3 linked regions of the Homo sapiens genome follow. The protein of the gene in region 3 purifies or fractionates together with the protein of the main gene of each other region. This does not show direct contact. Each region holds a gene or a part of one and is shown on either strand. Other genes may lie near its edges.

Region 1 (2,993 bases), on a different chromosome or scaffold from region 3:
AATAAAGTCTAGCACCACCCCTAGTTTGTATTTCAATGCTTTAATTAAATGTTGGAATACTGTGGGCATTGCACTATCCTCTATACAGGGTGTTCCTTTCAATGACCTTTCCATCAATTAGAAGAGGAAAAGGGTTTGTTCTTCTTTTCAGTGAGCCTTGCATCTTAGAGACAAGAACACACATTTGGTTATAAATCTCGATGTACCTGGATGCTCCAATTACAGTGTAGAGTCAACATCCAGTTTTATATGTAGCCAACACTAATCAGCTATTTTCATTATTGCTAATGAATTATGCTACTTGTATCTGAATCAGGAAGTCACCACTAAGCACCTCAAATTATTTTAATTGTGCTTGAAAAATTTCTTTGTAAAGCCTCTGCTGGGGATTATTGCACAGCTGGTGACTTGTTGAAAGACCATCTATCATCAGGTTACAAAAAAAATCTGATGCTTACTTGGAAGAAGGCGAAATCTCAGAATGAAATTATACACGTACATGTGTTTTAAGTTAGGTGTTGAGCCTGATACATCTGCTTGACTGTCACTACATTCTGGTATGTTGCCCAGAGGTAATAGTACATTTTTAGGGAATTATGCAAGAGGCTTGCAAGTGTGTTAATATTGGCAAGAATGCAGTGTTCGAAAGAGATAGTAGCAGATTGCCATTGATATATGAGAAGTATATCTTTTTAGGGACCTCTTATTATTTTTGAATGCCACTTACAGGTGTATTTCTTGGAAAGAAATGGAACAAACCCTGGTTATTTTAACATCCATCCTCCATCCCAATCCCTCTTTCTCATAGAAAGAGACTTACCCATGTGACATTGCAAATTTAGCTTAAGAGGTCACTTATTAAAATTTAGAGTTAATTTTATAACCAATAGAACTAGGCTGAATATTTTGGAATACAAAATGCATTGTTGCTTTCTTGGGAAACAGTATCTAATTTCACTTTTGAACCTTGAACTTCAAATAAAGAGCAGGTGATTGATAGGAGGTTAATGGACAGCCCGGGGAGGAACAGGGAAAGCCACCTATTTCATAGTTTAGCCTTCTCTATGCTCTCCTCTTTGGCAGCCCACAAGGGCTGACTCATTGCCACATTATTATAATTAAGGCCTAGCTGGCACAGGAATGAAAAAAAAAATGGTAACAGATCTTAGGAGAGGGGTGGTGGTGGCTCAGAGAAGGGCCAGGCATTCAGATCACTTTGTGCACCAACTGTTCAGTGTCAAGGATTATGTCACATGGTGGAGGGGGTACCCATGCCTCTGTGGTTTGTCCAGGGATGCTGCGGAGAGCTCACAGATGCTGATTGGCTGGCTTGGAAACGTCACCTCTGGACATTGCAAAGGCTTGTAGAAGGTGGGAATGTAAACACATAGCGGGTGCCTTTTATCCAACTCTCAAGGTAAAGCTAATATTTATAAGTTCTCAAATGTTAGCTCGATGTTTCCAGAGCCATTGGGCCTTGCTGGAAATTGAGACATGAATACAAAGCAGTTACTTTATTTATTCTTATATCATTTAAAAGACAGAAGAACCTTCCAGTATTCCAGTCAATTTTCCAAATCAGTTAAGAGGAAAGATACAGAACTAGATGTTTTATTTTCTATGATTTCTTAAGCTAGTTGCCAAGAATGAATGAATGAACAAAAGAAAAAAGAAAAGAAAGAAAGAGGAAGGAAGGAATGAAGGAAGGAGGGAAAGAAGGAAGAGGAGAGGAAGAGAGTGAGAGGAAGAAAATTCATTTTAGTTACAGAAGAAAATATAATAACTTATTGTTATTTATTATTTTTATTTGTAGATCCTGGTGAATGTGGGTAATTTTTTCACATTGGAGTCTGTCTTTGTAGCACCAAGAAAAGGAATTTACAGTTTCAGTTTTCACGTGATTAAAGTCTACCAGAGCCAAACTATCCAGGTGTGTGTTTTGACCTCTTCCATCCATACTCTCAACCAACTGTGCTTATCTTTAGTGGGTTATATATTTAAGTACTTATCCAAAGTTGTGTTTCCACAATAGAAATAAGCAGCCATCTTTATCATTTATTTTAAAACACTTAATTTCTAATTTTTTTCTCTTTAACATCCATTAAGACGTGACAAAAAGCGTATAGAAAAATAGAGAATTGAAGTTATTACCTTAATAACAATCAAACATTTTTTAAAAATCCATGGTTGAGTAAAAATTCAGTGACACAAATCTCTTTGTAAGATCATGCTTTCATTTAATGCATGTACAAGAATTACTTGAACTCATAAGAAAAAAACTTGTAAGACTAGTACAGCTTTACAAGTGCATACTAAATAAATAAAACACATTTGCTATTTTTTAAAATTATGAGATACAGCTAATCAGTAAGAATAAGTCTATGAAGGAGGAACTATTCAAAATACATTTTTAAAAAACGGTGTTCTATGCGTATGCTTGTGTTTATCCTCAGTTACTCTGATGCTAGTGAATTCTTACCAACTGCAGTTCCACAGTTAATATATTTTGTGTTCTGCTTTCTAAGACAATGGGCTTGACCTTACATTCAAAAGCAACAGTGGAGCTTGTTCCAACAATATTCCAGTATGCTAATACTAAATGACACAAATACATGTGCATGGAATTCTAAGATAACCTTTTATCTTATGCTCAGTATTTATGTTATACATTATGTCAATATGAATGATAGATTACATGCTTATCTATTAATACTTTTACATGTCCTAGTAAATGGATAAATGGATCAGCCTCAGATTTAATTTATTCCATATGACTTTTAACCTAAAAAAATCTAGAAAACAAACTTACTTCCATGGAAAAGTTTTCCCAACCCCCAATATTTAGAAATGTATGCAATGCTTGACACAGTGTAATCAAAATTGAAGAATAGAAAATAGTTAATACAGTTTTGAGTTGATTCTAATTATCTGTCACTGAAATCTCTAAAATTTAAAATCTAAATCTAAAATCACTAAAATCACTAAAATCAGTG
Region 2 (3,662 bases), on a different chromosome or scaffold from region 3:
TACACTTTTATTTATATATATAAACATATATGTAACTTTTTATTTGATACCTATACACAATTGAAATCTTTACTATCATCATGTGTAACTTTTATTTAGTTTTAAAAAATAATCACAATTTCCTATAGATTAATTCTAACACTCTATCACATATCAATACTGGACCAAAGAACTCTGGAATCATGGGAGAAGGCACATCTTTATGTTCATAATATGTAATGTTATTATTGGTTTTCAAGGTAACAAGCCAAATATGTGTCTAATGTTAGCGTAACAGACCTGAATAATGGTCTGCAGAAATTCATTTAATATAAAAAGCAGAAAATATCAGTTATAATAATTTTGAATTTTGGTGGAGCTTTTAATTAAGCCATAAATTTCTGATAAAGATAAATATATTCCAAATTTAGGAAAAAGCAAATGATACTTGCTTACTTGTTGTTCTCATGCTAGAATATTTCTCATACTTGCGAGTTACAATTTGACACTCTTGATGAACAATCCACAGATGAGAAAAGTGCAAAGGCTCCATTGCCCTGTAAGGTTAGATGTTGTGGCAGGTTTTAAACTATTGACTCTCAGCTCTAAGTTCCCTTCTGTGGTTGCTTTTAGGATGCTGAGGTTTGGACTTTGCAAACCACATATCTGTTTTATTTGTGGTTTCCTGTTAGGCTTTGCCAATGGAGGGAGATGGCAAGACTTGGCAGGGAGAGGGAATTGCTCCCATTGTTGGTTTCCTGTTTTGTTTCTTCCTCCTCCAGGAATTTATCCTAATGGCATGTCTTCATTCTGGCTATATCAATTTATTCCCACAGCAGCAGGTGCTGCCTCTTTGTAGTATTTCCAACATTTGCAGTATATCCAACATTTGATCTCATCAAGCCCTCCTCAGAGACACCAGCACTAGCACCAGAGAGATTTGAGGTTCATCACCACAAAGCTTCTCCTCCAAGCTTTTAAGTCTTAATGATCTTCCTTTCGTTCCCTCAGCCCTGTAAGTTGTAGGGGTGGTAGCTACTTCCTAACATTGCTGTTTCTGTGATACCACAGCAATATCTTAGCCTTTGCATAAACTTGGTTAATAACTCTATATCCAGTTAGCATTCTTTCTAAAATTTCTTTCTTAAAATAACTGATATTTTGTCAGTCTCCCGACTGGACTATGTTTGAATCCTTCTGTATCTAAAAGTGCAGAAATTAAGTTGTTTTGATTTTATAATTTACTAGAGTTAACCACCAGAGGTCTTATGGCTCCCTATACTGCAGGGAGTTAACCAGTCTTAAATATAATTCAGCAAACTTATTTTTAGATGTCATTCGTCTGTTTACTATGCAAGTTCCTCAAATGCTCTTAAAACTAGCTCTAGTATTTTCTTGCTGGTATTTTTATTAATGTGATTAATACAACGTTGACACAAATTCCCTCTCTATTCTTATGAGAATTATGTTTTTAACACCTCTCTGCTTATTAAGGGGAAAGTCACCTCCTCACAGTTTTTAAGTCTTAGATTAAAGCAATGTTTTCTATGCGCAAATGCAACTCATTAGTAGGTTATGAAATCAATTTTGTGAATCCAAATAAGCATTTAAAAAATTAAATTAGCTAGAATAGAAAGTATCAGAGTATAAAGATAAGTTGTTCATAAGAGTTTTGTTTTAAATTTATGTATGTGCATATCAATGTGTGTACTGGGACACATTTTGAAGTTTGAAAATTGGGAATCATGGTAGACCATGTTTTTGAAAAAATACTTGATCAAAGCACATATTCAGATTACAATTTATTTTACAGTGACTGGCAATAGCCTAGATAAATTCCCATTCTGTTTTTACTATTCACTTCTATTAACTTGTATAATTCACTGTTTTTCACAATGAGTTGGAAAATTAAATCAATATGTAATGCTTTGTTTCTGATTTGTTGTTGTTTTACCTCTAAAGGAAGGTAAAAACTATTTTCAGGAAGTCTTTTACAAAATAGTAACAAGAGTATTTCTCATCAAACAAGCTATTGATAAAATCTTGAATATGCCATTCTATTCTGTAAAAAGGAGAATTGCAAAAAATACATACTAGGTCAGAGTTGTGATTGATAGTGATATTTTAAAAATTGGACCTTAATTTCTGTGCTGACAGAGAGAGCTAGGAACAGACTGTAAAGTGACATGGCCGAATTACTAGATACTAAATAAAAGTTAGCTCTAATCTCCCTCACCCCAAGTCTATTGTTTTGTTTTGTTTTTATTATATCTTATTCAATGAGACCTCTTTCAATCAGTACAGGTTCAGACGTAAAATGTTTGCCAGCGGGACCTATTTTAGGAAACCTCATAGGATTTTTCAGGGTGTCAGATTCCTGGAGATATGTGGGATTGGTGCCATGGGTCACTTATACTCCAAGAAAGCATCGAAATGTAAGAAGACACTTTGTGCTGACATTTCAGTGGGAAGAATGCTTTCAAAAGGGATTTCCTAAGAGTAATACAGCCCATTCGTACTCTCTTGTTAACTGGTGAAGTAACATAATTTGAAAATCACATAAAAATTCAGCAAATTATTTCCAAATGGAAACAACATTCACTGATTATAGAACATTTATTCTACACTTTAACTTAAATACATGACTAATTTTCTACAAATTAGCCAAATTACTAAAAGACATCAACATGAACATTAAACATGGGTTGTGGTTTTGTTCACCGTCTTGTAGCTCTGTCAATGGTCTTCACAAAGAAGAGATACTTGAATTCACAAACATGTATAGAACAGTGAATGTGAGATGAAATCAGGGCCTTAGGGATCTTTTTGCACAACCAGGTGAATCTACAGATGAAAATAAGTAGCTCATAAGTGAACATTGTTGAATTTGCAATGTTTACTTAAAGCCTTTTAATTTAAACTATAGTGGGAGATAACAATTTCATAGCTAAGAAATCATGGTATTTGTCTTTGAATTAAGTTGACTTAAAAGTCAAGGGACCTGCATTAACTGCAAAGCTTTACGTTTACATATTACACCATTTCTGAACTGAGAAAATTTGTTTTGCTATTACAATTGCAGTTTATTTTTTTACAGCACTTAAAAGAGGGCTCATGTCATTTTCTCTATTGTAATTGAGGCAGGCTTAAAACCTCTTGGAGAGTAAAAACCATTGTAAAGTTCCCTCCTGCACAGCAGACCAATAGCAAGAATTCAAAAGCCAAGTGCATTGGCAAGCTTTGAAAGAGTATCTGAAATATTTGCTCTTTTACTCTTCAAGTGTATTCTATAGGGCACTATGTAATCAACTGAATTCGTGGTTTCTGAGGAGCTCAGAGGCTGAGGTCTTGTACTTTACAGTAATAGTGTACAGTACATTAACCACCTGGGTCCCTGTGTGTGTCATTGTTTCCTTTCCAGTAGTCAAAACAAAGTATTCTTAAGTTTTGCTTAATTCAGATTTGGTATTTTTGTAAATGTGTTCTCAGAGCCTCTCCAAATGGTTCTGTGTTCCATCAGCTCTCTGATGAGCTCCACTCTATAGCACAGCAGAACAACACTATTTAAAGATGTCCTCGTTAGAACACTTGACTGCTCATTGACTGCATTGGAAGCTGCACTTTATTTACAGATAATGGATGTGGAGCACAGAATTTAAAAATCACATAGAGAAATATATTCT
Region 3 (2,686 bases):
ATCTCCGGACCATGGACCTGTTAGGGTCTCCACAGAGGAGTAAACAACGGTGGACGAGGTGGCTGGCCCTGGTTCCACCTTCAGTCCCAGCAGCTGCCCAGTCAAGCAGAGTGGACTTGGGGGAAGGTAGGGTACCAGGGTCCAAATCCCTAGAGAGGAAGGGGAAGGAGCACAGACTCTAGAGTCAGGCAGAGCAGGAGACCACTGGGACTCAGTCACTCATTCACCTCGAGACCTGGGAGCAGCCACTGAAGGTCTCCAAGCCCAGGAATGACCTCCTCCCTCCAAGGGCTGCTGAAGGATGAGGCAGCATCTGTCCCGCACCCAGGTCTGTGCCCGGGCACACATGCCCCGAGGTGTGGATCCAGTAGCCATCAGGGGGCAACACAAGGTCTCCAGGGATCTGTCTGCCTTTCTGAGAAGCTAAGGTCTGTGAACCGGCCAGAGACCAGCCATGTTTCCCGCCCGTTCCTCAGCCCAGCAGGGATACAGGACACTGTGAGACAAAGACAAGTTATCCCAGGAACCCAAAGCCACACTCAACCCAAAAGTTCGGGAGCAACTTACCAGCTCTTGTGGGCCCCCATGTGGGCCCAGACCCCAGCCAAAAGCCAGGATCTAACAGCACCCACCCCCAAAAAAACTGCACAGGACCGTTGGAATTTGGAAAGTTTTTGTTTTCTTTTTCCCACACATTTCCGGGGTTGGGGTGTTTTCCAAGACTCAGACACATTTGTTAACAAAGAGAGAAAAAAAACTGGGGGAGCAGGGAGCCCGTGGGCAAAGAAGTGACCCCAGCAGTCTGTGGACAATGCCTTGCTCCCTCTTCCCTGCTGCCCGCGCCCAGCGGGTGCCACAGGCTGCTGCTCGTGGAATCTAGAGTATTTGTCTGTAATATATATCTGCATTTGCCTTTCCCCTCCCTCCCACCCCCCACCCCTGCTCCTCCAGCAGCTTCCCCATCAATGCACGTCGCCCGGCGGCACACACAGAACAGGCCTTCCGTCAGGCCTGAGCCCCTTCCCTGGGCGGCACCAAGCAGGTGCCTCTCCTGGTGAGGGGAGTTGGGGCACTTGCCCCACCCCACCCCACCCACCCACTGGGCCACTCGGGCCCACCCTCCCGCCCTTCTCCCACCGACTCTGGAAACCCAAAGGGAGGAAAGGAAGGGAGAAACCAGACACACAAAAAAAGAAGTAGGGAAGGAGGGTGGGGACAGTGAGACACAGCAAGCCTGGGATGGGGATTGGAGGGCTTGGGAAGAGAAGGAAGGCAGGAGGGACAGAAGGAAGAAGAAGAAAAATTGAGGAAAATTAACAGGACGAGCAGTGGACACTTTACAAAACCCCCAGCCTTCCTTCCCACCCAACCCCACCAAAATAAAACTACCCCCTTAAAAAAATAAATCAACCCAGGGCTGTGAGCACGTGCCCTGCCTGGCAGGCGCAGAGCTGAGAGGGACAGTCAGCCCCGGGACTGACGAGGCCGCGCAGTGGACGGCAGGAGGAAGGGGGCGAGCACGGGGTTTTTCCTTTTCTTTTTTTGCGTTTCCTCTTCGTAAGAGAAGCCTGAGGCAGCCAGGGAGAGGGTCCCCAGGCCCCTGGCAGGGAGAGGGTGGCACCCTCCTCCCGGGCCCTCCCAGGAGGGGCAGCTGGCAGTGGGGCGCAGTGCCGGGGGCTCAGACATAATACTCCTTGTCTTTGTTCTTCTTGGCCTTGCTGGGCGTCTTGGGGGCAGCCGGGGCCTTCTCTTTCACCACCGCCCCATTGCTCTGGGCCGAGTTACTGATGTAGTTTCGGCTCTGGTCCACCTGGTAGGAGCCCTCATCACGATTGCGGTACTTATACATGGCGTAGAGGAGGATGAGGATGCAGAGCGCCGCCGCCGCCACAATGCCCACCACCATGCCCGTGGTGCTGCTGGACTCCCGGATCACCTCCACTGCGCCCGGCGGGCCCCGCTCCCCAGGCCCTGTGGGGTTGGCTGTGGGCAGATGGGGGAAGCCGGGGGCTGAGGTCACGCCGGGGCGCAGGGGAGGGGGCCTCCGCGGCTCAAAGGACGTGGGGGCCCCGGGCCCCAAGGGCGGGTTCTCCAGCAAGGGCTGAAGCGGGTCTCGGTGGTTCATTTTGCCCGCCGGCAGGTTGGGGGCCGGGGCGGAGGGGGCAAACAGCACCCCAGGGGCGCCCGTGGCCCCATCTGTCCTGAGGTTGGGCCGGGGAGCGGGTTTGCGGGGTGACAGGAGGGTGGTGCGGTCCGTGACCAGGGGAAAGGTGGTGTAAAAGTCCTCGTCGTCCGTGGGGGGGAGGCTGGAGTCAAAGACCTCCCCGGAGGCGAAGCCCGAGGCCTCGATGGGCTCCTCGCAGTCGCTGTCGTCCCGCTCGGCCTGGCACGGGCCCCCAGAGGGCGGGCGGCGCGCGGCGGGCGGGGGCAGCGTGTCTTGGGTGGCGCCCACTCCCGTGAGGAAGGGGTAGAAGGTAGGGGGCGGGGGCACGAAGGGGGATCGGGTGGCCACGGGAGGGGGGTCTAAGGAGTCCTCCGTGATAATGGGCAATATTAACTCTCCTCCTAGAACAAGAGAGAGAAGAGAAAAGAGAGGGCGTCAGCGAGGGCCAGGGCGCAGGCGGCCGGCACAGAGAGAGAAACAACAGCCTCACACACCCAAATCGGTTCCAATTGGCTTTGGCGG

The links.
Region 1: the proteins of NRXN2 (region 3) and CBLN4 purify together in Homo sapiens (co-immunoprecipitation; one large-scale study listed by IntAct). This does not show direct contact.
Region 2: the proteins of NRXN2 (region 3) and LRRTM4 purify together in Homo sapiens (co-immunoprecipitation; one large-scale study listed by IntAct). This does not show direct contact.

The regions. Positions count from the first base shown.
Region 1 is NC_000020.11:55,999,668-56,002,660, reverse strand, and holds part of CBLN4 (cerebellin-4 precursor), read left to right. Parts: intron 1-1,813; coding exon 1,814-1,930; intron 1,931-2,993. UniProt on the Homo sapiens protein: Acts as a synaptic organizer in specific subsets of neurons in the brain. Essential for the formation and maintenance of inhibitory GABAergic synapses.
Region 2 is NC_000002.12:76,749,377-76,753,038, forward strand, and holds part of LRRTM4 (leucine-rich repeat transmembrane neuronal protein 4 isoform a precursor), read right to left. Parts: intron 1-3,662. UniProt on the Homo sapiens protein: May play a role in the development and maintenance of the vertebrate nervous system. Exhibits strong synaptogenic activity, restricted to excitatory presynaptic differentiation.
Region 3 is NC_000011.10:64,605,518-64,608,203, forward strand, and holds the end of NRXN2 (neurexin-2-beta isoform alpha-1 precursor), read right to left. Parts: intron 2,566-2,686; coding exon 1,679-2,565; 3' UTR 657-1,678; downstream 1-656. UniProt on the Homo sapiens protein: Neuronal cell surface protein that may be involved in cell recognition and cell adhesion.